Linked DNA regions of Homo sapiens: region 1 is linked to region 2. Evidence: fine-mapped expression QTL. A gene starts in region 2. The other region holds a variant in brackets. All regions are shown on one strand. Distances are between the middles of the regions.

Region 1 (11,452 bases), 410 kb after region 2:
TTTTAAGCCTGCAAAAGAATGTTTTCCCAGGCCAGGCACGGTGGCTGACACCTGTAATCCTAGCACTTTGGGAGGCCGAAGCAGGCAGATCACTTGAGGTAATAGAGTTCAAGACCAGCCTGGCCAACATGGTGAAACCCTGTCTCTACTAAAAATACAAAAATTAGCCAGGCTTGGTGGTGGGTGCCTGTAGTCCTAGCTACTCAGGAGGCTGAAGCAGGAGAATCGTTTGAACCTGGGAGGCAGAGGTTGCAGTGAGCCGAGATCTTGCCACTGCACTTCAGTCTGGACAACAGAGTGGAACTCCATCTCAAAAAAAAAAAAAAATCCACTTGTTCTCTGGGTGCAGTGGCTAATGCTTGTAATCCCAGCACTTTGGGAGGCCTAGGTGGGCAGATCACATGGCCAGGTATTCGAGACCAACCTGACCAATATGGTGAAACCCCATCTCTACTAAAAATACAAAAATTAGCCAGGCGTGGTGGGCACCTATAATCTCAGCTACTCGGGAGGCTGAGACAAGAGAATCACTTAAACCTGGGAGGCGGAGATTGCAGTGAGCCGAGATCATGCCTTTGCATTCCAGCCTGGGCAACAAAGCAAGACTCCATCTCAAAAAAATAAAAATAAAAATAAAGAACGTTTTCCCAAATAATTGTGTGTGGTTGCACAAATATGCAGGAAAACAATCAGAACGTACCTGGAAATATTAATTATAAGATAGTGCCTCCCGCTGGGCTCAGTGGCTCATGCCTGTAATCCCAGCACTTTGGGAGGCTGAGGTGGGCAGATCACAAGGTCAAGAGTTCAAGACCAGCCTGGCCAGCATAGTGAAACCCCATCTCTACTAAAAATACAAAAATTAGCCAGGCATGGCGGCATGTGCCTGTAATCCCAGCTACTCTGGAGGCTGAGGCAGGAGAATTGCTTGAACCTGGGAGGCGGAGGTTGCAATGAGCCAAGATCACGCCACTGCACTCCAGCCTGGGCGACAGAGCGAGACTCCGTCTAAAAAAAAAAAGACAGTGCTTCCCCTGTAGGAGGGAGAGAAGGATGTGACGTTTCAGAAGGGATACAGGGAACCCCAAACCCGGTCATGAGTATTTTATTTCTCTAAATAAATAATGGTAAAAATGTTAAGATATTGTAAAGATAGGTGTGTATGTATAATCGTGGTAATTCCTCTAATCCTTTCTCCATGTCTGTATTTGAAATAATTATTTTCAAGGCCAGGCGCGGTGGCCCACGCCTGTAATCCCAGCACTTTGGGAGGCTGAGGCGGGTGGATCACTTGAGGCCAGGAGTTTGAGACCAGCCTGGCCAACATGGTGAAACCCTGTCTCTACTAAAAATACAAAAATTAGCTGGGCATGGTGGTGTGTGCCTGTAGTCCCAGCTACTGGGAAGGCTGAGGCAGGAGAATCACTTGAACCCCGGAGGCAGAGGTTGCAGTGAGCTGAGATCATGCCACCGCACTCCAGCCTGGGCGACAGAACAAGACTCCATTTCAAGAAAAAGGAATAATTATTTTTGGCTGGGTGCAGTAGCTCACGCCTGTAATCCCAGCACTTTGGGAGGCCGAAGTGGGCGGAACACCTGAGGTCAGGAGTTTGAGACCAACCTGGCCAACATGGTGAAACCCTGTCCCTACTAAAAATATAAAATTGCTTGAACCTGGGAGGCAGAGGTTGCAGTGAACTGAGACCACTCCACTGCACTCCAGCCTGGGTGACAGAGCGAGACTCTGTCTCAAAAAACAGTAATTATTATTATTTTTAAAATAACATATATTTTGGAGGCTGGGCACAGTGGCTCACGCCTGTAATCCCAACATTTTGAGGGGCCAAGGAGGGAAGATGGCTTGAGCCAGAAGTTCAAGACAACCCTGGGCAATATAGTGAGACCTCATCTCTACAAAACATTTAAAAGTTGGCCAAGTATGGTGGCATGCACCCGTAGTCCCAGCTATCTACAAGGCTGAGATGGGAGGGTCACATGACCCGGGAAGGTGGAGGGTGTAATGACCCCACCAAAACACTGTACTCCAGCCTGGGCAACGGTTCGAAATCCTGTCTCAAAAACGTATACTTGGTTGAGCACGGTGGCTCACGCCTGTAATCCCAGCACTTTGGGAGGCCGAGGCGGGCGGATCACGAGGTCAGGAGATCAAGACCATCCTGGCTAACACGGTGAAACCCCGTCTCTATTAAAAATACAAAAAAATTAGCCAGGTGTGGTGGCGGGCGCCTGTAGTCCCAGCTACTCAGAAGGCTGAGGCAGGAGAATGGCGTGAACCCGGGAGGTGGAGCTTGCAGTGAGCCGAGATCGCGCCACTGCACTCCAGCCTGGGCGACAGAGCGAGACTCCGTCTCAAAAAATATATATATACTTTTGAAATACCTTTTTTTTTTTTTAATAAGGGGACTGGAGGGGGTGGAACCAGGTGATAGTTGGATACAGAGGGAGATGAAGGAAAGGAAGCAAAAGCTGTCCCCCAGGAGACCCGAAATTTTATTTTTCTCAACTTATGGTTGCCTTCCTGATATGAATTTGTAGGAGCAGTGCCTTATTTTTTTCTTCTTGCACCCTCACCCAGCTACGAAGAGTAGTACTTAGAAAAGAACTTTTAGGCCTGGTGCAGTGGCTTACGCCTGTAATCCCAGCACTTTGGGAGGCCAAGGTGGGTGGATCACTTGAGGCCAGGAGTTCGAGACTAGCCTGGCCAACATGGTGAAACCCCAATTCTATTAAGAATAAAAAAAATGGGGCCGGTCTCCAGCTCCTAACCGCGAGTGATCCGCCAGCCTTGGCCTCCCGAGGTGCCGGGATTGCAGACGGAGTCTGGTTCACTCAGCGCTCAATGGTGCCCAGGCTGGAGTGCAGTGGCGTGATCTCAGCTCGCTACAACCTCCATCTCCCAGCCGCCTGCCTTGGCCTCCCAAAGTGCCGAGATTGCAGCCTCTGCCCGGCCACCACCCCGTCTGGGAAGTGAGGAGCGTCTCTGCCTGGCCGCCCATCGTCTGGGACGTGAGGAGCCCCTCTGCCTGGCTGCCCAGTCTGGAAAGTGAGGAGCGTCTCTGACCGGCCGCCATCCCATCTAGGAAGTGAGGAGCGCCTCTTCCCGGCAGCCATCCCATCTGGGAAGTGAGGAGCGTCTCTGCCCGGCCGCCCATCGTCTGAGATGTGGGGAGCGCCTCTGCCCCGCCGCCCCGTCTGGGAGGTGAGGAGCGTCTCTGCCCGGCCGCCCCGTCTGAGAAGTGAGGAGACCCTCCGCCCAGCATCCGCCCCATCTGAGAAGTGAGGAGCCCCTCCGCCCGGCAGCCGCCCCGTCTGAGAAGTGAGGAGTCCCTCTGCCCGGCAGCCACCCAGTCTGGGAAGTGAGGAGCGTCTCCGCCCGGCAGCCGCCCCGGCCGGGAGGGAGGTGGGGGGGTCAGCCCCCCGCCCGGCCAGCCGCCCCGTCCGGGAGGGAGGTGGGGGGGTCAGCCCCCCGTCCGGGAGGGAGGTGGGGGCGGTCAGCCCCCCGCCCGGCCAGCCGCCCCATCCGGGAGGGAGGTGGGGGGGTCAGCCCCCCGCCCGGCCAGCCGCCCCGTCCGGGAGGGAGGTGGGGGGTCAGCCCCCCTCCCGGCCAGCCGCCCCGTCCGGGAGGTGAGGGGCGCCTCTGCCCAGCCGCCCCTACTGGGAAGTGAGGAGCCCCTCTGCCTGGCCAGCCACCCCGTCCAGGAGGGAGGTGGGGGAGTCAGCCCCCCACCCGGCCAGCCGCCCCGTCCGGGAGGGAGGTGGGGGGGTCAGCCCCCTGCCCGGCCAGCCGCCCTGTCCAGGAGGGAGGTGGGGGGGTCAGCCCCCCGCCCGGCCAGCCGCCCCGTCTGGGAGGGAGGTGGGGTCAGCCCCCCGCCCGGCCAGCCGCCCCGTCCGGGAGGTGAGGGGCACCTCTGCCCAGCCGCCCCTACTGGGAAGTGAGGAGCCCCTCTGCCTGGCCAGCCACCCCGTCCAGGAGGGAGGTGGGGGAGTCAGCCCCCCACCCGGCCAGCCGCCCCGTCCGGGAGGGAGGTGGGGGGCTCAGCCCCCCGCCCGGCCAGCCGACCCGTCCGGGAGGGAGGTGGGGGGATCAGCACCCCGCCCGGCCAGCCGCCCCGTCCGGGAGGGAGGTGGGGGGGACAGCCCCCGCCCGGCCAGCCAGCCCGTCCGGGAGGGAGGTGGGGGGGTCAGCCCCCCGCCCGGCCAGCCGCCCCGTCCGGGAGGGAGGTGGGGGGGTCAGCCCCCCGCCCGGCCAGACGCCCCGTCCGGGAGGTGAGGGGCGCCTCTGCCCGGCCGCCCCTACTAGGAAGTGAGGAGCCCCTCTCCCAGCCACCACCTCGTCTGGGAGGTGTACCCAACAGCTCATTGAGAACGGGCCGGGATGACAATGGCGGTTTTGTGGAATAGAAAGGGGGGAAAGGTGGGGAAAAGATTGAGAAATCGGATGGTTGCCGGGTCTGTGTAGAAAGAAGTAGACATGGGAGACTTTTCATTTTGTTCTGTACTAAGATAAATTCTTCTGCCTTGGGATCCTGTTGATCGGTGACCTTACCCCCAACCCTGTGCTCTCTGAAACATGTGCTGTGTCCACTCAGGGTTAAATGGATTAAGGGCGGTGCAAGATGTGCTTTGTTAAACAGATGCTTGAAGGCAGCATGCTCGTTAAGAGTCATCACCACTCCTTAATCTCAAGTACCCAGGGACACAAACACTGCGGAAGGCCGCAGGGTCCTCTGCCTAGGAAAACCAGAGACCTTTGTTCACTTGTTTATCTGCCAACCTTCCCTCCACTATTGTCCTATGACCCTGCCAAATCCCCCTCTGCGAGAAACACCCAAGAATGATCAATAAAAAAAAAT[TAAA/T]AAAAAAAAAAAAAAAAAAAAGAATAAAAAAAATTAGTTGGGCATGGTGGCAGGCGTCTGTAATCGCAGCTACTCAGGAAGCTGAGGCAGGAGAATTGCTTGAACTTGGGAGGCAGAGGTTGCAGTGAGCTGAGATCGTGCCACTGCACTCCAGCCTGGGCAACAGAGGGAGACTCCGTTAAAAAAAAAAAAACAAAAACGAAGAAGTCAAGGCAAAAGTAGAGAGTTTATTTATTTGAGCCAAGCTTGAGGGTTGCAAATCAGAAGTATAGATTCAAATTGCCCTGAATATGCACTCTGATTTAGCAGTACTTGCAAGTTGGATTTATTTTATTTTATTTTATTTTATTTTTTGGTCTGAGACAGGGTCTCACCGTGTCACCCAGGCTGGAGGGTAGCAACAAGATCATAGCTCACCACAGTCTTGAACTCCTGGGATTAAATGATCCTCTTGCCTCAGCCTACCAGTGGATTTTTTTTCTTTTTTGAGACGGAGTCTCACTCTCTTGCCTGGGCTGGAGTGCAATGGCGCGATCTCAGCTGATGCACCTCTGCCTCCCAGTTTCAAGCAATCCTCCTGCCTCAGCCTCCCAAGTAGCTGGGATTGCAGACGTGCACCACCATCCCTGGCTAGTTTTTGAATTTTTATTTTAATCTTTTTTTTTTTTTTTAGTTTTTCTTAGTTTTTGTATTTTTAGTAGAGGCGTGGTTTCTCCATGTCTGCCAGGCTGGTCTCGAACTTCTGACCTCAGGTGATCTGCCCACCATGGCCTCCCACAGTGCTGGGATTACAGGCATGAGCCACTGTGCCCAGCGAACAAGTGGATTTTTAAAGGTAAAAAAAGGGGGACAGGGAGTGGGACTGACACAAGTGGATCGCTTGAGCCCAAGAGTTTAAGACCAGACTGGGCAACATGGCGAAACCTCATCTCTACAAAAAAAAGTACAAAAATTAGGCAGGCATGGTGGTGCATGCCTGTGATTCCACCTACTCAGGAGGCTGAGGTGGGAGAATCACCTGGGCCTGGGAGGTCGAGGCTGCAGTGAGCCATGAACCTGCCACTGCACTCCAGTCTGGGCTATGGGGTGAGACCCTGTCTCAAAAAAACTCAATAACCACCCCCGCTAAAAAAAAAAAAAAAAAAAAATGCTTGTCAGGAATTCTTATTGGTTTACAAAAATAACATAACTCTCAGGAGTTTGAGACCAGCCTGGCCAATAAGGTGCGCGCCACCACGCCCAGCTAATTTTTGTATGTTTAGTGGAGATGGGTTTTCTCCATGTTGGCCAGGCAGGTCTCAAACTCCTGACCTCAGGTGATCTGCCCGCCCCGGCCTCCCAAAGTGCTGGGATTACAGGCATGAGCCACTGCACCCACCCCTTGACTTCTTTCTTTTAGGTCCACAGTACATAGAACATGTCAGGAAAAGAAAGGATGGGGTGAGGTGATGGGGTGAGGATGTAGGATAATGGGACAGGATGAGCAGTGGGATGAGGGGATGGAATGAAGGACTGGATAAGGGATAGGTGGGGGTAAATGAGAGCATGGGGGAGGCAGTGCTCTCCTGATGGTGGGGTGCACGAGTGGATGGATGACAGGATAAATAGGGAAGGGAGGAGGGATAGGATGACGAGACGGCTGTAGAAGCCCAGAGCAGAGAACATTGCTGCTTTGGGGTCGATGATGTAATCACCTCAACTCACTGACACTATTCCCAGCCACGGATGATGCTCACAGAATCTGGGGAAGTCCAAGGCCTGGAAGCAGGACTCATCTTGGACTTCCCCTTCTATCTAGTTCCAGGTGCTGAATGAGGCACCTCTGAAGAAGAGAAAGGAGAGAGACTAAGATAAACAAGACTGAGAGGAAAAAATCAGAGTGGGCAGGCAGAGTGAGCCTGGTAAAGTGGACCACAGAGCAGACAGGCTGTGGCTTAGCCTTGGACAGCAGGTGGGGTTCCAGAGCCATATGCTTGGAGGAGCCTTAGCAAACTAAATCCCCCAGCAGTTTCTTAAACCCATCCATCACACAGCTTGCCAGAACCCTGGGGTTGGCAGCTTCCAGAATGGTTAGGAAAATCCACAGTAGTGGTCAGGCGCGGTGGCTCATGCCTGTAATCCCAGCACTTAGGGAAGCCAAGGCAGGCGGATCACTAGGTCAGGAGATCGAAACCATACTGGTTAACACGGTGAAACCCCGTCTCTACTAAAAATACAAAAAATTAGCTGGGCATGGTGGCATGCGCCTGTAATCCCAGCTACTCGGGAGGCTGGGGCAGGAGAATCACTTGAACCCGGGAGGCAGATATTGCAGTGAGCCGAGATCGCGCCATTGCACTCCACCTGGGCAACAGAGCGAGACTCCGTCTCAAAAAAAAAAAAAGAAAGAAAGAAAAAGAAAATCCACAGTAGGGGGCCAGACACAAAAATGATCACTCCAGCACTGTCCAGCCCAGATCAGAGGGTTTCTGATGGGAAGTAGCTGGGGTCAGGGCAAGGAGTGGTGGAAAAAGTCAGGCTGTTTTCAGCTGAACTATACAAATGGGCATCTCCTGGCCCAGGGTGGGGATTTGGCATTGCAGAAAGGCCAGAATCCACCTGGAATCACTCAGTTACTGTGAAATCTATCTTGGGAACCTAAGAATGTTTGCTTTCTAGACTTGAGAATTTTGGACACTTGATTGCTTTCTGGATGAATTTTAGAGATTTATAAATTGTATTGAAAGTGTTTATTCGACAAGATGTTTATTGAGCATCCACAGTGTGTTAGGCACTGGGGATACAGCAACACACAAAACAGACAGAGAATCGGCCCTTATGGAGAGACCATTTCAGTGGGAAAAGGGAGTATAAAAAAGCAAATCAAGGTCGGGAGCAGTGGCTCCCACCAGTAATCCCAGAACTTTGGGAGGCCGAGGCAGGTGGATCGCTTGAGCCCTGGGCAACATAGCTAAACCCTGTCTCTACAAAAAATTAGCCAGGCATGGAGCGCGTACCTGTAGTCCCAGCTACTCAGGAGGTCGAGGCAGGAGGATCGCTGACATCTGTGAGGCAGAGGCTTCAGTGAGCAGAGATCACACTACTGCACTCCAGCTTAGGCAACAGAGCAAAACTCTGTCTTTAAAAAAAAAAAAAAGTAGGCCGGGCAGGGCCGGGCCCAGTGGCTCATGCCTGTAATACCAGAACTTTGGGAGGCCAAGGTGGGTGGATCACTTGAGTGAGGTCAGAAGTTCAAGACCAGCCTGGCCAACATGGTGAAACCCTGTCTCTACTAAAAATACAAAAATTAGCTAGGCATGGTGTCACATGCCTGTAGTCCCAGCTACTCAGGAAGCTGAGGCAGGAGTATCACTTGAATCCAGGAGGCAGAGGTTGCAGTGAACGGAGATCACACCACTGCACTCCAGCCTGGGCAACAAGTGTGAGACTCCATCTCAAAAAAGAAAGTGAATCAATATATAAAATATAAAAAGACAAAAAATAATACACGTTGGCAATGATGTGGAGGAAAGGAAACATACCCTGTTGGTGAGAATGTAAATTAGTCCAGCCACTATGAGAAACAGTATGGAAATTTCTCAAAAAACTATCATAAGGGCTGGGTGCGGTGGCTCACGCCTGTAATCCCAGCACTTTGGGAGGCCGAGGTGGGTGGATCACAAGGTCAGGAGATCCAGACCATCCTGGCTAACACGGTGAAACCCCGTCTCTACTAAAAATACAAAAAAAAAAAAAAATTAGCTGGCCATGGCGGCGGGCACCTGTAGTCCCAGCTACTCAGAAGGCTGAGGCAGGAGAATGGCGTGAACCCAGGAGGCGAAGCTTGCAGTGAGCCGAGATGGCACCACTGCACTCCAGCATGGGCGACAGAGCAAGACTCCATCTCAAAAAACAAACAAAAAACAATCATATGATCCAGCAATCCCACTACTGGGAATTTATGGAAAGGAAAAGAAATCAGTGTATCAAAGGGATAGCTACACAGCAATGTTTATTACAGCACTATTCACAATAGCAAAGATATGGAATCAACCTAAATGTCCATCAACAGATGAATGGATAAAGAATATGTGGTACATCTACACAATGGAAAACTATTTGGCCGTTAGAAAAAGAATAAAATCCTGTCATTTGCAGCAACATGTGAAACTGTCTGTCCCTACAGGGTTGACAAGAACTGCAAGCCAGGTTCTAGATAGAAATATAATTAAGCATTGGCTGGGCACAGTGGCTCACACCTGTAATCCCAGCACTTTGCGAGGCCGAGGTGGGCAGATCACTTGAGGGCAGGTGTTCGAGACCAGCCTGGCCAACATGGTGAAACCCTGTCTCTACTAAAAATACAAAAAGTAGCTGGGTGTGATGGCAGGTGCCTGTAATCTCAGCTACTTGGGAGGCCTAGGCAGAATTGCTTGAACCCGGGAGGCAGAGGTTGCAGTGAGCCGAGATCATGCCATTGCACTCCCAGCTTGGGTGACAGAGTGAGACTCAAAAAAAAAAAAAAAAAAGAAAAAGAAAGAAAGAAAGAAAATTAAGCATTAATCATGCTGCACTTTGGTCCACTTCCTTGTTGCTGAAAGCCACATAGCTCTAGATGCTGACCATTTGTATCCCCATTGTTCTTATAGACAGCATCGCTGACCTTAGAATCATGATGTTTTTGTTAAGGATCACGTCAGATGTTTTTTGGACCCCCAATTCCAGCCACCAGTTTGAAGACCCCTACAGAGGATGGGGATTGTCAGGCCTCTGAGCCCAAGCTAAGCCATCACATCCCCTGTGACCTGCACGTATACATCTAGATGGCCTGAAGTAACTGAAGAATCACAAAAGAAGTGAAAATGGCCTGTTCCTGCCTTAACTGATGACATTACCTTGTGAAATTCCTTCTCCTGGCTCATCCTGGCTCAAAAGCTCCCCGGCTGAACACCTTGTGACCCCCACCCCTGCCAGCCAGAGAACAACCCCCTTTGACTGTAATTTTCCACTACCTACCCAAATCCTATAAAACGGCCCCACCCCTATCTCCCTTCACTGACTCTTTTTGGACTCAGCCCGCCTGCACCCAGGTGAAATAAACAGCCTTGTTGCTCACACAAAGCCTGTTTGGTGGTCTCTTCACACGGACGCGAGTGAAAGGGATCAGCATGAGACTATAACTTCTTCTTCCACCCTCTGTCCCGTGACTTCACTCTGCACTCTTCAACCAATCAACGATCTCCACCCTTCAGCCCACTCCAAAACCCTTGAACACCCTAGCCCCAAACTCTTAGGGGAGATGGATGTGAGGTTTCCCCCCATCTCCTCATTCAGTGACCCTACAATTAAACCTGCTTCTCTGCTGCAAACCAGTTATAACTGTAGTAGGCTCATTGCCCAGTGCACACAGCAAATCAACAGGAGACACTGGGTTGCAGGAGAGAAGAGGTTTCATCGTAGGGTCGCCAAAAGAGATGAGGAGTTGAAGAATGTAGGGTGAAGTCACGGGACAGGGAGATGAAGAAGCCACATTCTCATGCTGATCCCATTCCCCAGTGGGTAGCCTTCACACTGGTTGCTGGAATTCAAGGTCTGAAAAGCATCTTTTTACATTTTTGTTTATGTATTTATTATTATTATTATTATTATTATTATTATTATTATTATTATTGAGATGGAGTCTCACTCTGTCTCCCAGGTTGGAGTATAGTGGTACAATCTCGGCTCACTGCAACCTCTGCCTCCTGGGTTCAAGCAATTCTCCTGTCTCAGCCTCCTGAGTAGCTGGGATTACAGGTGTGAACCACCTCCCCCCACCACCTCCACTCCGCTAATGTCCTTTGTATTTTTAGTAGAGATAGGGTTTCACCATGTTGACTGGGTTGATCTTGAAGTCCTGACCTCAAGTGACCTACCCACCTCAGCCTCCCAAAGTGTTGGGATTATGGGTGTGAGCCACCGTGCCTGGCCCTGAAAAGCATCTTAAGTGATTCTTTCTTTAACAAAAGCCTTATGACTCTAATATCAGAGATTCTGTCTATAGGAACAATGGGGGTGCACATGGTCAGTATCTAGCTCTACCTGAGTTTTAGCAACAAGGAAATGGACCAAAGTGCAGCCCGAATAACACTTAATTATAAGTATGTTTCTGTCCAGAACCCAGCATGCAATTCTTGTCAGCCCTGTGGGAATGGTTTCACAGTGTCTCGATATACTGACTTGCTGTGTGCATTGGGCAACAAACCTATTACAATTACACATGGATGTAACTGGAGGTCATTACATTAATTGAAATAAGCCAGGCACAGAAAGATAAACAATGCATGTTCTTACTCCCAAGTGGAAGCTAAAAAAGTTGATCACATGGAGGTAGAGAATGGAATGATGGATACTAGAGACTGGGAAAGGCGTATGGGTGGGGTGGGGTGGGGAGAGAGGTTGGTTAATACACCTAGACAGAAGGAATAAGTTCCCTTTTTTTTTGAGACGGAGTCTCACTCTGTTGCCCAGGCTGGAAGGCAGTGGCACAATCTCAGCTCACTGCAACCTCTGCCTCTTGGGTTCAAGCAATCCTCCTGCCTCAGCCTCCAGAGTAG
Region 2 (15,619 bases):
CGCATATTACTTAAGACCCTTTCTCACACCAGGTACATGGAAAAAGGCAATCTTTTGGCAAAAAGTAGATCTACCACTAAATACAGTAGGCCAGGTGCGGTGGCTCACGCCTGTAATCCCACCACTCTGGGAGCCAAGGTGGGCAGATGACGAGGTCAGGAGATCGAGACCATCCTGGCCAACATGGTGAAACCCTGTCTCTACTAAAAATACAAAAATTAGTTGGGCGTGGAGGCGCGTGCCTGTAACCCCAGCTACTTGGGAGGCTGAGGCACGAGAATCGCTTGAACATGGGAGGCGGAGGTTGCAGTGAGCCGAGACTGCACCACTGCAATCAACCAGCCTGGTGACAGTGAGACTCTGTCTCAAAATAAATACATACATACATGAATACAGTAAAACATACTAAATTTTTCCTTGTTTTTTGAGATGGAGTCTTGCTCTGTTGCCCAGGCTGGAGTGCAGTGGCATGATCTGAGCTCACTGCAACCTCCGCCTCCCAGGTTCATGCGATTCTCCTGCCTCAGCCTCCTGAGTAGCTGGGACTCCAGGCACCCGTCACCATGCCTGGCTAATTTTTTTTTTTTTTTAAGGCGGGGTTTTGCTCGTCACCCAGGCTGGAGTGTAGTGGCGCGATTTCTGCTCACTGCAATCTCTGCGTCCCGATTCTCCTGCCTCAGCCTCCTGAGTAGCTGGGATTACAAGTGCATGCCACCACACCTGGCTAATTTTTGTATTTTTAGTAGAGACAGGGTTTCACCATATTGGCCAGGCTGGTCTCCAACTCCTGACCTGGTGATCTGCCTGCCTTGGCCTCCAAAAGTGCTGGGATTACAGGTGTGAGCCACCGCGCCCGGGCTTTTTTTTTTTCTTTTTTGAGACAGAGCCTCACTCTGTCACCCAGGCTGGAGTGCAATGGCATGATCTTGGCTCACTGCAACCTCCGCCTCCTGGGTTCAAGCAATTCTCCTGTCTCAGCCTCCTGAGTAGCTGGGACTACAGGCACCCGCCACCATGCCCGGTTAATTTTTGCATTTTTATTAGAGACGGGGTTTCACCAAGTTGACCAGGCTGGTCTCAAACTCCTGACCTCAAATGATTCACCCACCTCGGCCTCCCAAAGTGCTGGAATTACAGGCGTGAGCCACTGTGCCTGGCTAAACATACTAAATTCTTATTTTCCTGCCAAGGCTCTAGGCCCAATCCTGCTCATGCCCTGCTCTCCCTGTTCACGAGGAATGTCAATATTAAAAGCAGTGAAGATACAGGGCACCCCATGCAGACCTCCTCCACTTGTGATGGGAAAGATGGGAACGACAGGAATTGCCCTCTGCAGTAAATGACGTTTATTGCTGACAGGCAAGGGGAAACATCTCGCCCACCATACTGGCAACCACAGGCCTACTGGCTATTAAGTATGTGCGTTCCGTGGTCAGCTGGTCCTGGTTTCTGCTTTCTGGGGACTTCATAGCTGTTAGCCCATGGGCAGTTGATGTCCCCAGTCTGAGTTTTGTTTACTTCCTGTGTAAAGAGTAGTCCCTCTATATTAATACCATGATGATGTTTGTACTCATTACCCATCCCCTAGCACACACTCTCTCCCTTTCAGTCACTTAGCAAGCACTCAATAAGTTCAGCAAATATTTGCTGGGTACCTATTGTGTGCTGCATACTTTTGTAGGGACAAGGTATGCAGTGATTAATAAAATAGAGAATTTCCAGTATTGTGTTGTGATGAAAACAAAACTGATGTGGTGGGGCCAGCATACTGAGAGGCCGAGGTGGGAGGGTCGCTTGAGGCAAGGAGACCAACCTGGGCAACAAAGTGAGACCTCATCTCTACAAAAAAAAAAAAAAAATTAAAAATTAGCCATGAGTGGTGGCATGCTAGTTGGGAGCCTGACCCAGGGGGTTCACTGGAGCCCAGTTCAAGGCTGCAGGGAGCTATGATGGTGCCACTGCACTCCAGCCTGGGTGACAGAGTGAGACCCCATCTCCAAACAAAAAACAACCTAGGCTGGGCCAGGCACAGGGGCTCACACCTGTAATCCCAGCGCTTTGGGAAGCTGAGGTGGGTGGAACACTTCAGATCAAGAGTACGAGACCATCCTGGCCAACATGCTGAAACACTCTCTCTACTAAAAATACAACAACAGCCGGGCGCAGTGGCTCATGCCTGTAATCCCAGCACTTTGGGAAGCCGAGGCGGGCGGATCACGAGGTCAGGAGATCGAGACCATCCTGACTAACCCGGTGAAACCCCGTCTCTACTAAAAATACAAAAAAATTAGCCGGGTGTGGTGGCGGGCGCCTGTAGCCCCAGCTACTTGGGAGGCTGAGGCAGGAGAATGGCGTGAGCCATTCGGGAGGTGGAGCTTGCTGTGAGCCGAGATCGCGCCACTGCACTCCAAAATCCAGCCTGGGCGACAGAGCAAGACTCTGTATCAAAAAAACAAACAAACAAAACAACAACAACAACAACAAAATTAGTTAGACGTGGTGGTGCATGCTTGTAATCCTAGCTACTTGGGAGGCTGAGGCAGGAGAATCACTTGAACCTGGAGGTGGAGGTTGCAGTGAGATGGAGGTGCAGTGGCACTGCACACTCCAGCCTGGGTGACAGAGCAAGACTCCAAAAAAAAAAAAAAAATCCTGATGTGAAGCGGGTGATGGGGTTGGGAACAGTAATGAGTGGTCCAGAAAACCCTTCTGAGAAGGTGCATTTGAGCTGAGCTCATGGTGCTTGGTGTTGGGTTTGTAGACATGGCACAGACCTAGTCTTCATCCCTGACAAACTCTTCCCTGGCCCCAAGCCTGTGTGTGTCCATCCTCTTCTAAAAAAAGCTTGGACTTGCCAGTCTAGAGGTGAGGGTCCCTGGGAGCAACGTGGACCCTCTGGAGAAGGACGCTTAGCCTGTGGATCTCCGAAGCACACTTTGGAGGTGAGAGATGAAAAAAAAGAGGCCGGGCACGGTGGCTCACCTCTGTAATCCCAGCACTTTGGGAGGCTGAGGTGGGCAGATCACTTGAGGTCAGGAGATCGACACCAGCGTGGTGAATATGGTGAAACCCGTCGCTACTAAATATACAAAAATTAGCCAGGCATGGTGGCACGTGCCTGTAGTCTCAGCTACTTGGAGGCTGAAGCAGAATTGCTTGAACCCGGGAGGCGGAGGTTGCAGTAAGCCGAGATCATGCCACTGCACTCCAGCCTGGGCGACAGAGTGAGATTCTGTCTCAAAATTTTAAAAAATTAAAAAAAAAAATTGTGCTTCTCAGTGGCCCTGCTCCTGTGGCTGCAATATGGAGGAAGAGTACAAAGGGTGGGTACAAAGACTGGCCTCTGTCTTGCTGTTGGGAAATCCAGCTGCCACGTTGTGAGCTTGTGTCTGGAATTGGTTCCTTCTGGTGGGTTCTTGGCGTCGCTGACTTCAAGAATGAAGCCATGCACCCTCGCAGTGAGTGTCACAGTTCTTAAAGATGGTGTGCCTGGAGTTTGTTCCTTCAGATGTTCAGATGTATCTGGAATTTCTTCCTTCTGGTGGGTTTGTAGTCTATGCTGAGTTCAGGAGTGAAGCCACAGACCTTCGCGGTGAGTGTTACAGCTCATAAAGATAATGTGGACCTATAGAATGTGCAACAGCAAAATTTATTGCAAAGAGCAAAAGAACAAGGCTTCCACAGCATGGAAGGCGCCCTGAGCCAGTTGCAGCTGCTGGCTAGGGTGGCCTGCTTTTATTTCCTTATTTGGTCCCACCCACATCCTGCTGATTGATCCATTTTACAGATAGCTGATTGGTCCATTTTACAGAGTGCTGATTGGTCTGTTTTACAGAGTCTGATTGGTCCGTTTTTACAGAGAGCTGATTGGTGCGTTTACAAATCTTTACCTAGACACAGAGCGCTGATTGGCGTGCTTACAATCCTTTAGCTAGACACAGAGCGCTGATTGGTGCATTTACAATCCTTTAGCTAGACAGAAAAGTTCTCCAAGTCCCCTACCTGATTAGCTAGACACAGAGCACTGATTGGTGTGTTTACAAACCTTTAGCTAGACACAGAGTGCTGATTGGTGCATTTACAATCCTTTAGGTAGACAGAAAAGTTCTCCAAGTCCTCACCGGCCCAGAGGCCCAGCCATCTTCACCTCTCAAGCTGTCTGTAGAGGTCCACGTGTCAAGAAAACTGAGGACAGAGGCCCTCAGTCCAGTTCCCACAAGCAACTGCATCTCCCCAACAGCTGCCTGAATGAGTTTGGAAGCAGTCCTCCCACCATTCAGCCTTCAGATGAAACTGCACCCCTGGCTGACAGGCTGATTGCAGCCTTATAGCAGACCTTAAGCCTGAGACATTCGACCCACAGAAAAGGTGATAATTTTGGTCTTTTTTTTTCTAAACAGGTTCTTGCTCTAGAGTGCAGTGGCACGATCATGGCTCACTGCGGCCTCTACATCCTGGGTTCAAGTGGTCCTCCCACCTCAACCTCCTGAGTGGCTGGGACTACAGGTTTGTACCACCATGCACAGCTAGTTTTTCTCTTTTTTTCTTCTTTTTGTAGGTACAAGGGTCTCCCTGTGTTACTTAGGCTGGTCTCAAATTCTTAGGCTCTAGCAATCCTCCTGTCTCAGCCTCCCAAAGTGTTGGGATTACAGGCATGAGCCACTGCACTGGGGCAATGTTGGTCTTAGGCTAATTATGCAGCAGGAGATACATGCACTGTGCTTTGGGAATTGAAGTCACTTCTATTTCTTTGTGGCTTCATCAGTAATATGGGGCAGGGGGCACGGTTCCCACAGCTGATTCTTGAGTGTTCTTTCTGAGTATCCTTAATACTTCACACACTATCATATATCTGAACTTTGTTCATTGATTATCTCCCCTTTAATTTTCATTCCTTGATGAATCTCCAGGGTCTGGATTAAGTCCTAGGATACTTTATGTACTCATGAAATCTTCAATGAATGAAGAAATGATTTTTTTTTTTTTTGAGACAGAGTCTCACTCTGTCACCCAGGCTGGAGTGCAGTGGCATGATCTTGGCTCATTGCAACCTCCACCTCCCAGGTTCAAGCAATTCTTCTGCCTCAGCCTCCTGAGTAGCTGGGACTACAGGCATGCGCCACCATGCCTGGCTCATTTTTGTATTTTTCAGTAGTGACAGGGTTTCACCATATTGGCCAGGCTGGTCTTGAACTCCTGACCTCAGGTGATCCACCCACCTCAGCCTCCCAAAGTGCTGGGATTACAGGTGTGAGCCACTGCATCCGGCGGATTTTTTTTTTTTTTTTTTTGAGACAGGGTCTCACTCTCTCGTTCAGGCTGGAGTGCAGTGGCGTGATCTTGGCTCACTGCAGCCTCCACCTCCCAGTTTCAAGTGATTCTGGTTCGGCCTCCCAAGTAGCTGGGACTACAGGTGTGTGCCACCATGCCTGTCTAATTTTTGTATTTTCACCACGTTGGCCAGGCTGGTCTCAAAACTCCTGACCTCAAGTGATCCGCCTGCCTCAGCCTCCCAAAGTGCTGGGATTACAAGAGTGAGCCACCATGTCTGGCCTGAATGAAGAAATAATTTTTTAAAGAGTGTTTTAAAGTGGGGCCGGGTGCGGTGGCTCACACCTGTAATCCCCACACTTTTGGAGGCCAAGGTGGGTGGGTCACTTGAGGTCAGGAGTTTGACACCAGCCTGACCAACATGGTGAAACCCCATCTCTACTAAAAATACAAAATTAGCTGGGCATGGTGGCAGATGCCTGTAATCCCCGCTACTTGGGAGGCTGAGGCAGGAGAATCACTTGAACCCGGGAGGGGGAGGTCACAGTGAGCTAAGATCGTGCCATTGCACTCCAGCTTGGGTGACAAGAGCGAAACAATGTCTCAAAAAAAAAAAAAAAAAAAAAGAAATTGCATTTCAAAGCCAGGTGCAGTGGCTCACACTTATAGTCACAGCTACTTAGGAGGCTGCGGTGGGAGAATAGCTTGAGCCCAGTTGTTCAAGGCTGAGTGAGCTGTGATTGTGGCACTGCACTCTAGTCTGGGTGACAGAGTGAGACCCTGCCTGTAAAAAAAAAAAAATCTTTCAGGCCAGACGCGGTGACTCACTCCTATAATCCCAGCACTTTGGAACGCCGAGGCGGGTGGATCACCTGAGGTGGGGAGTTCGAGACCAGCCTGGCCAACATGGACAAACCCTGTCTCTACTAAAAATACAAAAATAGCCGGGCATGGTGGCACATGCCTGTAATCCCAGCTACTCGGGAGGCTGAGGCAGGAGAATTGCTTGAACTCGGGAGGTGGAGGTTGCAGTGAGCTGAGATTGTACCACTGCAATATGAGACTCCATCTCAAAGAAAAAAAAGAAAAAAAAAAAAAGATAGCATAGCAATGGCTGTGGGCCTGGATACAAGTCTTAGCCTCTCCACTTCTCCACTTCCTGGCTCTGTAAGCCTTAGACAAGTTCCTTAACTCCACACTTCCATTTCCATGTAACAAGGGGTTATAGGCCAGGCATTGGTGGCTCATGCCTGTAATCCCAGTGCTTTGGGAGGCCAAGGCGGGAGGATACTTGGGGACAAGAGTTCAAGACCAGCCCAGGCAGCACAGTAAGACATTGGCTCTAGAAAAATAAAAATAAAAGAAATCATCCAAGAATGGTGACTTGCCTACTATTCTACTCGAGAGGCTGAGAGGGGAGGATTTCTTGAGCCCAGGAGTTTGAGGATGCAGTGAGCTATGATCACATCACTGTACTTCAGCCTGAGCAACAGCAAGATCCTGTCTCAAAAAATTAAATTAGGCTGGGCTTGGTGGCTCATGCCTGTAATCCCAGCACTTTGGAAGGCCATGGTGGGCAGATTGCTTGAGCCCAGGAGTTTGAGACGAGGCTGGGCAACATGACGAAACCCCGGCTCTACCAAAAAATACAAAAAATTAACTGGGCATAATGGTACATGTCTGTGGTCCCAGCTACTCGGTAGGCTGAGGTGGGAGGAATGCTTGAGCCCAGGAAATAGGGGCTACAGTGAACCAGGATCATGCCAGTGCACTCCAACCTGGGCAACAGAGCAAGACTCTACCTCAAAATAATTATTTAAAAAAATGGATTAATTGGGCATAGGTGGCTTGTGCCTGTAGTCCCAGTTACTCAGGAGGCTGAGGTGGGAGGATTGCCTGAGTCTAGGAGGTTGAGGCTGCAGTGAGCCGGGATGGCACCATTGCACTCCACCTGGGCAACAGGGTGAGACCCTGTCTCAAAAAAGAAAAAAAAGGGAGGGGTTATAATCACTCCTCCTGACATGATACAGAGTATCCATTTGAGTTCATAACATAAATATGTACTTGGTGAATGCTCTGTAACTATTGGCTTTTTTATTGTTCCCATTTTACATATAAGGAAGCTGAGGCTTTGTGAGGAGAAATAGCTTAGCCCAGGTCATCCAGTGGGAAGCGTCTGGTGCAGAGGAATAGTGATCATGGTGGGACTTTGCCTAGCCTAAGGTTCAGCATACAATATTCAGTCAGTACTCAAGGGCTGGGCTGTTTCTGGTAATCAAAGGGCTGCCTTGTTCTCCTGCCCCACAGCACAGGAAATTCCAAGGTGGTTTTCTTTACAGGCTCCTCCGCTTCTGTGGCCAGAGGGGACAGCGGAGGAGCCCAGGTACCTAAGCCAACTCAAGAGAAGATGGAATTGAATATTTCAACCACCTTATCTAGGCCTCTGTGATTGTTGAGGAGGGGGCTGTCACTGGGAAAGTTGTGAGCTGCTTTGGACCTTATCTGGGAATTTCCTTGGGCTTACAGCCTTTACCCTATCCTTGAAATGGTTCTGGTTTCATAGCAACTTCTAGGTGGTGTGGGCGAAGTTTGGGACTGGTTTAGGGCGGGGACAAGACCAAGAACACAAGTTTCCTTGTACTACGGGAGAGAGGGAGGGGAGGAAATTGGAGACCCCAGCACCCCCTTGCTCACTCTCTTGCTCACAGTCCACGATGGCCCGGTCCCTGGTGTGCCTTGGTGTCATCATCTTGCTGTCTGCCTTCTCCGGACCTGGTGTCAGGGGTGGTCCTATGCCCAAGCTGGCTGACCGGAAGCTGTGTGCGGACCAGGAGTGCAGCCGTAAGAATGGGGAGGGGAGAATTGGGGGCTTGGGCGTTAGCCTGTGTGGAGGGTGCTGCATTCCCTTCTATTCCTTCCCTAGACCCTATCTCCATGGCTGTGGCCCTTCAGGACTACATGGCCCCCGACTGCCGATTCCTGACCATTCACCGGGGCCAAGTGGTGTATGTCTTCTCCAAGCTGAAGGGCCGTGGGCGGCTCTTCTGGGGAGGCAGCGTGAGTCTTGGGAGAGTGAAAGAGGGAAGGGTACAGAGCTGGGGTAGACTCATTATCCCCATGAAGGGAAGATTTGAGGGGGGTGAACTGAAATAGACATTGTGGGGGGATATTGTTACTTACTTTATTTTATTTGCTTATTATTTTTTAATTTTTTCCGAGACAGAGTCTTGCTCTGTCACCCAGGCTGGAGTGCAATGGCACGATCTCGGCTCACTGTAACCTCCACCTCTTGGGTTTAAGCGATTCTCCTGCCTCAGCCTCCCAAGTACCTGGGATTACAGGCATGCACCACCACACCTGGCTAATTTTTGTATTTTTAGTAGAGACAGGGTTTTACCATATTGGCCAGGCTGGTCTTGAACTCCTGACCTCATGATCTGCCCGCCTTGGCCTCCCGGAGTGCTGGGATTACAGGTGTGAGCCACTGCCCCCCAGCCTATTTTCACTTTATTTACCAATTTTAGGACCTGATATGGTCCCACGTTCTGTTCTAGACACCAAGATACAACAACAAATGATCCTTTTTATTCTAATGGAGGGAAATGAACAAAAAGCAAGGCATAAAAAATAGCAGCAGCCGGGCACAGTAGCTCACACCTGTAATCCCAAGTAAGGCCAAGTTGGGAGGATAGCTTGAGCCCAGGAGTTCGAGACCAGCCTGGGCAACATAGCAAGACCCCCATCTCTATAAAAAAAAATTTAAAATTAACTGGGCTTCATGGCATGTGTCTGTGGTCCCGGCTACTCGGGAGGCTGAGGTGGGAGGATTGCTTGATCCCAGAAGTTGAGGCTGCAGTGAGCCGTGATCATGCTACTGCACCTCAACCTGGGCGACACAATGAGACCCTGTTTCCAAAATAATAATAATAATAAAAGCAAATATGCGCTGCTGTGAGAATTAACAGAGACTTACTTGGGTGTTCAGAAAGGGCCTCTGAACAGGTGGCATTTAAGCTGAGATTCATATGACAAGGATGGAGCAGTTATGTGGAGATCAGGGAGAAGGGAGAATGCAAAGGCCTTCAGCAGGCACAAGCTTGCCATCTTCCCAGACCCTAGCTTTTAACTCCTCTTCCCCAGGTTCAGGGAGATTACTATGGAGATCTGGCTGCTCGCCTGGGCTATTTCCCCAGTAGCATTGTCCGAGAGGACCAGACCCTGAAACCTGGCAAAGTCGATGTGAAGACAGACGTGAGTGTCATGGGGGCTGGCAAGAAATGTGGGGGGAGGACCCTTAGGTTGTGGGGATGGGCAAAAATGCTCCCACACTTGGCTCCCTGGCAGCCTAGGTATGTGCGCTGGGAGAAATTCTTTCCCTGCCTCAATTTTCTCACCAGTAAAATGGGTCCAGTTGGGAGGTGCAAAGATTAGAGGGCTCTAGGCTAATTTGCATAGCACTTGTGTGGCCAGACCTGGGCCCTGCAGCTGCAGCCTTTGCTAAAACCACTAGATCCTTTGTGGTGTGACCGCTGGTTTTCTTTCCACTGTTTCCCCTTTCTCTTTTTCAGAAATGGGATTTCTACTGCCAGTGAGCTCAGCCTACCGCTGGCCCTGCCGTTTCCCCTCCTTGGCTTTATGCAAATACAATCAGCCCAGTGCAAACGGCTCGTCTCCGTGGTCTTTGGGGTGGGGTAGGGTAGGGTGGGGACTGTACAAATGAAATGTTTCTCTAGGTTGCTGAATCTAACCAATTAACCCGCTGCCTGTGGTAACGTCAGTGGTTGCTAGGCAGAGTTTCACTGATGAAAGCCCTGTGCAGTAGGAGCGCTCCTAAGCTTAGGTTTCGGACACAAGCAAAGGAAAACCTAAGCAGCCCAACTAGGGGATTGTAGTGTCCTCTCTAGACCAGTGGGAGGGAGCCAATCGGACTACGCGGAGGATATAAATCGCACAGTAAAGGTTTTCTTGGAAGATTATCTGGAAAGGGAGGTGGGAAGTAACCTGCGCCTATCTGCCCAGTTTTCCTCCTTTTCGCCTTTGAGAACAGTAATCGCTCCCGCCAGCTCAAGATCAGCTCCTCTTCCAGCCTCTTTCTGTCAATCCTGCCCGTGCCCCCTTCTTTGCATTTGTATCCCCTCCCCCAAGTCCGCTCCGATCCAATCCGGAGACTCGACTCTGCCCCCCGTACTCCAGACTAAATCCGTTCCTCGGCTCAGCTAAGCAGCTCTGCACGTCCCTTCCCACTTGCTCAGCCAATCGCTGGGCTCGGCCCCGCCCCTTTGGGCTTGGTCCTTCTCACGCCACCAATCCGCGCCTCTTGTCCCGCCCCCTGCCCGCGAGTCCGCCAATCCCGCCCTTCGGAAAGCGTCGCCTGGTATCCAGCTGCCGGAGCGGGTCGCGCCGGAGGGGGGCGGAGGCGGAAGTGGCGGTGCCGGGCCCGGGGAGTAGGAAGGAGCCGGGGCTGTAGCCGGAGTGGAGCGGCTGCCAGCCGAGGAGCAGGCGCGGCCGCGGCGCCATATTGCGGCCCTCAGCGGCCGCGACCGAGTCATGGCTGAGACCTACGGTGAGGGTGGTGGACGAAGCTGGGGTCCTGGGTCTGGGCCCAGGGAGGATGCGGCCTGTGGGAATGGGCGGGGCTTTGTAGATCAGGGGGCGGGGTCTGGTGTGATGGAGGCAGGACCTAAGTGGATGCTGGGAGGGGTTTAGTGGGTCTGAGGCTGAGCTTAATCGATTTAGGTGGAGCCTGAGGGTCTGGTGCGTGGGTTAAATAGATCTGGGGCGGGATTTGAGGGAGCTGGTCCTGAGGGGTTCAGGGAGGCCCTGAGGGAAGAGGTGGGCCTTAATGGATCTGGGCGGAGCCTGAGTGAAGGGGCGGGGCTGACTGCATGAATGGCAGGAGTCGGGCTTATGGGCTAGAGGGAACACTGAATGGAAGCTCGGGACCCTGGGGCTGATCTGGCTGGAGAGAGCTCTGGAATGGGTTTGGGGATGGGCTGTCCTTGAGTTAGGGGCAGGACTTAGTGGCAAAGGGTGGGACTTATGCATGAGAATGGAGCCGGGTTCTGGGCAGAGGGAGGGAAGGAGAGGTCGGGAAGTGGAAAATCAGTAGGGATGCACCATAGGAGGTGGTGATTGGAGGCAGGGGAAGTGCAGGTTTAGGAGTCAGAGGGAGCCGCATTCACTCAACAAATATAGAAGAGAAGGGAGAAGAGTGCAAAGACCCTGAGGTGAGAACCAGCTTGTCATTTTCAGGGAATAGACTGAAGGTCAGGAGCTATAGTGGAGTGAATGAGTCAGAGGGTGGTAGGAGGTGAAGAGGAACAAGGGCTATATCGTAGTCCTTGTTTAAATAGCTTTCAAGAGACTTTAGCGACAAAATAGCTAAGATCTGGGACTCTGGAGCCCTTGGCCTAGGTTTGAATCTCACTTCTGCCCAGCTGTGTCACTTTGGGCAAGTCAGTTAACCTTTCTGGCCTGTTACCTCATCCGGAAAATGGGAATAATTTTTAGTCTACCTCCCTCATAGAGTTTTCCTGAGGATGATGTGAGCTGTTGATGTGAGTAAAGACCTTTAGAACTGTTCCTGGCCCACAACAACACACAATTGACCCATGTAACAAACCTGCACATGTGGGCTGGGCGCGGTGGCTCATGCCTGTAATCCCAGCACTTTGGGAGGCTGAGGCAGGCGGATCACCTGAGGTCGGGAGTTTGAGACCAGCCTGACCAACATGGAGAAACCCCGTCTCTACTAAAAATACAGAATTAGCTGAGTGTGGTGGCGCATGCCTGTAATCCCAGCTACTCGGGAGGCTGAGGCAGGAGAATTGCTTGAACCTGGGAGGTGGAGGTTGCGGTGAGCCGAGATCGCGCCATTGCACTCCAGCCTGGGCAACGAAAAGTGAAACTCTGTCTCAAAAAAACAAAAACAACGACAAAAAAACCCCTGCACATGTACTCCCTGAATCTAAAATAAAAGTTGAAAAAAAATATATAGAATGTGCCTGGCACATGGCAAGTACTACATAAGAGTTATCTGTTACTGTTACCTATTGGTTTGTTTCTGCCTATGTCTGTTTCTCTCCCTCTAACTGTGATGGTTAGAGAGAGAGATTGGATTGGAATCCATCTTTTTTCCCTGTATCTTTCTCTCCCTGTGGGTATCCCTGATTTTGGCTCCATCTGGTCAGACTTCCTCTTCAAATTCCTGGTGATTGGCAGTGCAGGAACTGGCAAATCATGTCTCCTTCATCAGTTCATTGAGAATAAGTGTGAGTTTCCCGCAGTGGTCCTGGGAACCCTGAGCTGTGTTTATGCGCATGGTGTGGGCTGGTGGGCAGCCGGTGGGGAGGGCAGGGCTGGCCATAGGTACAAGTCCAGTGCTGGCTTTTTGGTCCTTGCTTTGTCGTATGTCCTTTACTAGGTTCTCCTTGACCTCAAGTCACTCCAGCAAGGAGAATGGGTTTGTAGAGACTGAGAGGGCCTTGGAGGATGGGGGATCCTCTGAGCTGTCTCCTCTCTCCCTGTACTGCCCCTTCTGTTCCTCCTACTCCCAGTCAAACAGGACTCCAACCACACAATCGGCGTGGAGTTTGGATCCCGGGTGGTCAACGTGGGTGGGAAGACTGTGAAGCTACAGATTTGGGACACGGCTGGCCAGGAGCGGTTTCGGTAGGTGGGCTGGGCTCCCAAGGGTGATGGGGAGAGAGAGTGAGAAGGAAAGAGAGAGATGTGTGTGTAGAGTCACTTGGAGACACTGAGAGGGCAGACAAGGCAGACAGAGAGAGATGAGACACCGTAGTTAGCAGGTATATATATCCAAGGAGAGAGGGAGTACTGGAGAGATAAAGAGATGGTGGAAGAAAAAGAGGTAGGGGCCAGGCGCAATGGCTCATGCCGGTAATCCCCGTGCTTTGGGAGGCCATGGTGGGAAGATTGCCTGAGCCCAGGAGTTTGAGACCAGCCTGGGCAACATAGTGAGACCCCATCTCAAAGAAAGAAAAAGAGATAGAGAAAAGTGGCTTGGGGGTGGGGAAAGGGATGGAGACTGAGAGACACCGAAACAGAAAGAGAAGGGGAAACTTGAGAGACTCACACTCAGAAAGGAAAAGAGCAAGAGAGACAGAGACTAAGAGAGTTGAAGAGAATGATAAGGGAGGTAAGGAGGCCTGGCACGGTGGCTTACACCTATAATCCCAGCACTGTGGGAGGCTGAGGCAGGTGGATCACTTGAAGTCAGGAGTTCAAGACCAGCCTGCCAATATGGTGAAACCGTGTCTCTACTAAAAAAAAAAAAAAAAAAAAAAAATCAAAAAATGTAGCCAGGCTGTGGTGGTGGATGCTAGCTACTTGGGAGGCTGAGGCAGGAGAATTGCTTGAACCTGGGAGGCAGAAGTTGTAGTGAGTCAAGATCGCACCACTGCACCCCAGCCGGGGTGACAGAGCGAGACTCTGTCTCTGAATAAATAAATAAATAAATAAATGAATAAATAAATAAATAAATAAATAAATAAATAAGGGAGGTGAGGAGACACAGAGAAACAGAGGTCAGAGGCAGAGAGGGAGACAGGGTGAGTCAGACAGGTGTAGTTGGACGTTGAATGAATGAATGCACGAATTTACGGGAAGGCAAGGGTGAGCATGAGAGCCACAGAGATGGAACAGAAAGAGAGACAGTGAGAAATAGGGAACTGAAGACACACACGCCAAGGCAGGAGAACCGCTTGAGTCCAGGAGTTTGAGACCAGCCTGGGCAACATTGTGAAATCCCATCTTTCCAAAAGAGAGATGGAGAAATGGACGTGTTGTGGGAGAGAGAGAGAGAGAAATGCGTAGGGCTCAACACACTGTAGGTCTTCAGGAAATGCCTGCAGAGCAGAAAAGTTGATAGACACATAGAAACCTTAGGAGAGGCCGGGCGTGGTGGCTCATGCCTGTAATTCCAGCATTTTGGGAGGCCGAGGCGGGCGGATCACGAGGTCAGGAGATCGAGACCATCCTGGCTAACATGGTGAAACCCCGTCTCTACTAAAAATACAAAAAATTAGCTGGGTGTGGTGGCAGACGCTGGAAGTCCCAGCTACTTGGGAGGCTGAGGCAGGAGAATGGCATGAACCCAGAAGGCGGAGCTTGCAGTGAGCCCAGATCGCGCCACTGCACTCCAGCCTGGGCGACAGAGCTAGGCTCCGTTTCAAAAAAAAAAAAAAAAAAACCTTAGGAGAGTCGGAGAAACAGAGAGCAGGGAGAGAAATAGAGGGAATTCAGTCCACGGAAAAGTGTGATCTATGGCAGCATCTAGTAGCTGCTGAGTTAATTCTTGCGTATGGATTAACTGCCTGAGGTGCACAGAGCCCAAAGGCAGAGAGAGGGGCTGAAGGATAGACAGGTGTGTAGCATGGGCTAGGTTTACGGTGAGTGCTTAGTAAATGCTGTGGAATGATTGCATGAGTTCCAGAAGGACCCAGACTGGTGAGACAGAGAATGCAGAATTGGCTACACTGGGAAGGAGACTCCACCTGACACAGCAGGAGAAGGATAAGCAGATGTTGTATAGTGCTTGGGCAGGGCCAGGCAAAGGGGAGATTTGCTCAGAAAATGTTGAATGAATGAATGCACAAATGCATGGGAAGGCAAAGGTAAGCATGAGAGAGCCACAGAGATGAAACAAACAAACAAAAAAGACAGAAATAGGGAATTAAATAGGGCCAGGCACGGTGGCTCACGCCTGTAATCCCAGCACTTTGGGAGGCCTAGGCGGGCAGATCACTTGAGGTCAGGAGTTCAATACCACACTGGCCAACATGGCGAAACCCCATCTCTACTAAAAATACAAAAATTAGCCGGGCGTGGTGGTGCATGCCTGTAATCCCAGCTACTTGGGAGGCTGAGGCAGGAGAATCACTTGCATCCGGGGGGCAAAGGTTGCAGTGAGCCAAGATCACGCCACTGCACTTCAGCCTGGGCGACAGAGCAAAACTCCATCTCAATCAGTCAATCAATCAATCAATCAATCAATAAAAGACATGTAGGGCCGGGCACAGTGGCTCACGCCTGTAATCCCAACACTTTGGGAGGCCAAGGTGGGCGGATCACTTGAGCTCAGGGGTTCGAGATCAGACTGGCCAACATGGCCAACCCCATCTCTACTAAAAATACAAAAATTAGCCTGATGTGGTGGCGTGCATCTGTAATCCTGGCTACTCGAGAGGCTGAGGTGGGAGAATCACTTGAACCCGGGAGGTGGAGGTTGCAGTGGTTGCAGTGAGCCGAGATCATGCCACTGCACCCCAGCCTGGGAGACAAGAGTGAGATTCCTACTCAAAAAAAAAAAAAAAAAAAAAAAAAGAAA

Alleles and levels. Positions count from the first base shown, and alleles are read on the strand shown. Sizes are in standard deviations (SD) of each study's normalised expression.
For the expression in lymphoblastoid cells of the gene that starts at base 7,964 in region 2, T is the high allele of the variant in region 1 and TAAA is the other (large effect, 1.4 SD a copy in TwinsUK).

Evidence for each region.
Region 1: its variant is fine-mapped to the expression of MIA in lymphoblastoid cells (TwinsUK, PIP 0.95).

Annotation. Positions count from the first base shown.
Region 1 is chr19:41,176,958-41,188,409 of GRCh38, forward strand. All of the region lies in intron 1 of LOC124904790, which reads right to left. Among named protein-coding and RNA genes, the nearest start is that of CYP2S1, 11 kb to the right of the region's middle. RefSeq lists an enhancer at 4,289-5,078. The variant TAAA/T (reference allele first, on the strand shown) is at 4,875.
Region 2 is chr19:40,767,558-40,783,176 of GRCh38, forward strand. It overlaps MIA (MIA SH3 domain containing), which reads left to right and starts at 7,964. Exons shown (of 4, transcript NM_006533.4): 1 at 7,964-8,112; 2 at 8,195-8,328; 3 at 9,412-9,522; 4 at 9,840-9,933. The coding sequence starts at 7,986. The coding sequence ends at 9,863. It overlaps RAB4B (RAB4B, member RAS oncogene family), which reads left to right and starts at 10,690. Exons shown (of 8, transcript NM_016154.5): 1 at 10,690-10,834; 2 at 12,462-12,542; 3 at 12,828-12,942. The coding sequence starts at 10,819. MIA-RAB4B (MIA-RAB4B readthrough (NMD candidate)) reads left to right here and starts at 7,980. Exons shown (of 10, transcript NR_037775.1): 1 at 7,980-8,112; 2 at 8,195-8,328; 3 at 9,412-9,522; 4 at 12,462-12,542; 5 at 12,828-12,942. It overlaps RAB4B-EGLN2 (RAB4B-EGLN2 readthrough (NMD candidate)), which reads left to right and starts at 10,662. Exons shown (of 12, transcript NR_037791.1): 1 at 10,662-10,834; 2 at 12,462-12,542; 3 at 12,828-12,942. RefSeq lists silencers at 9,824-9,953, 10,504-10,743 and enhancers at 10,804-10,873, 11,761-12,292.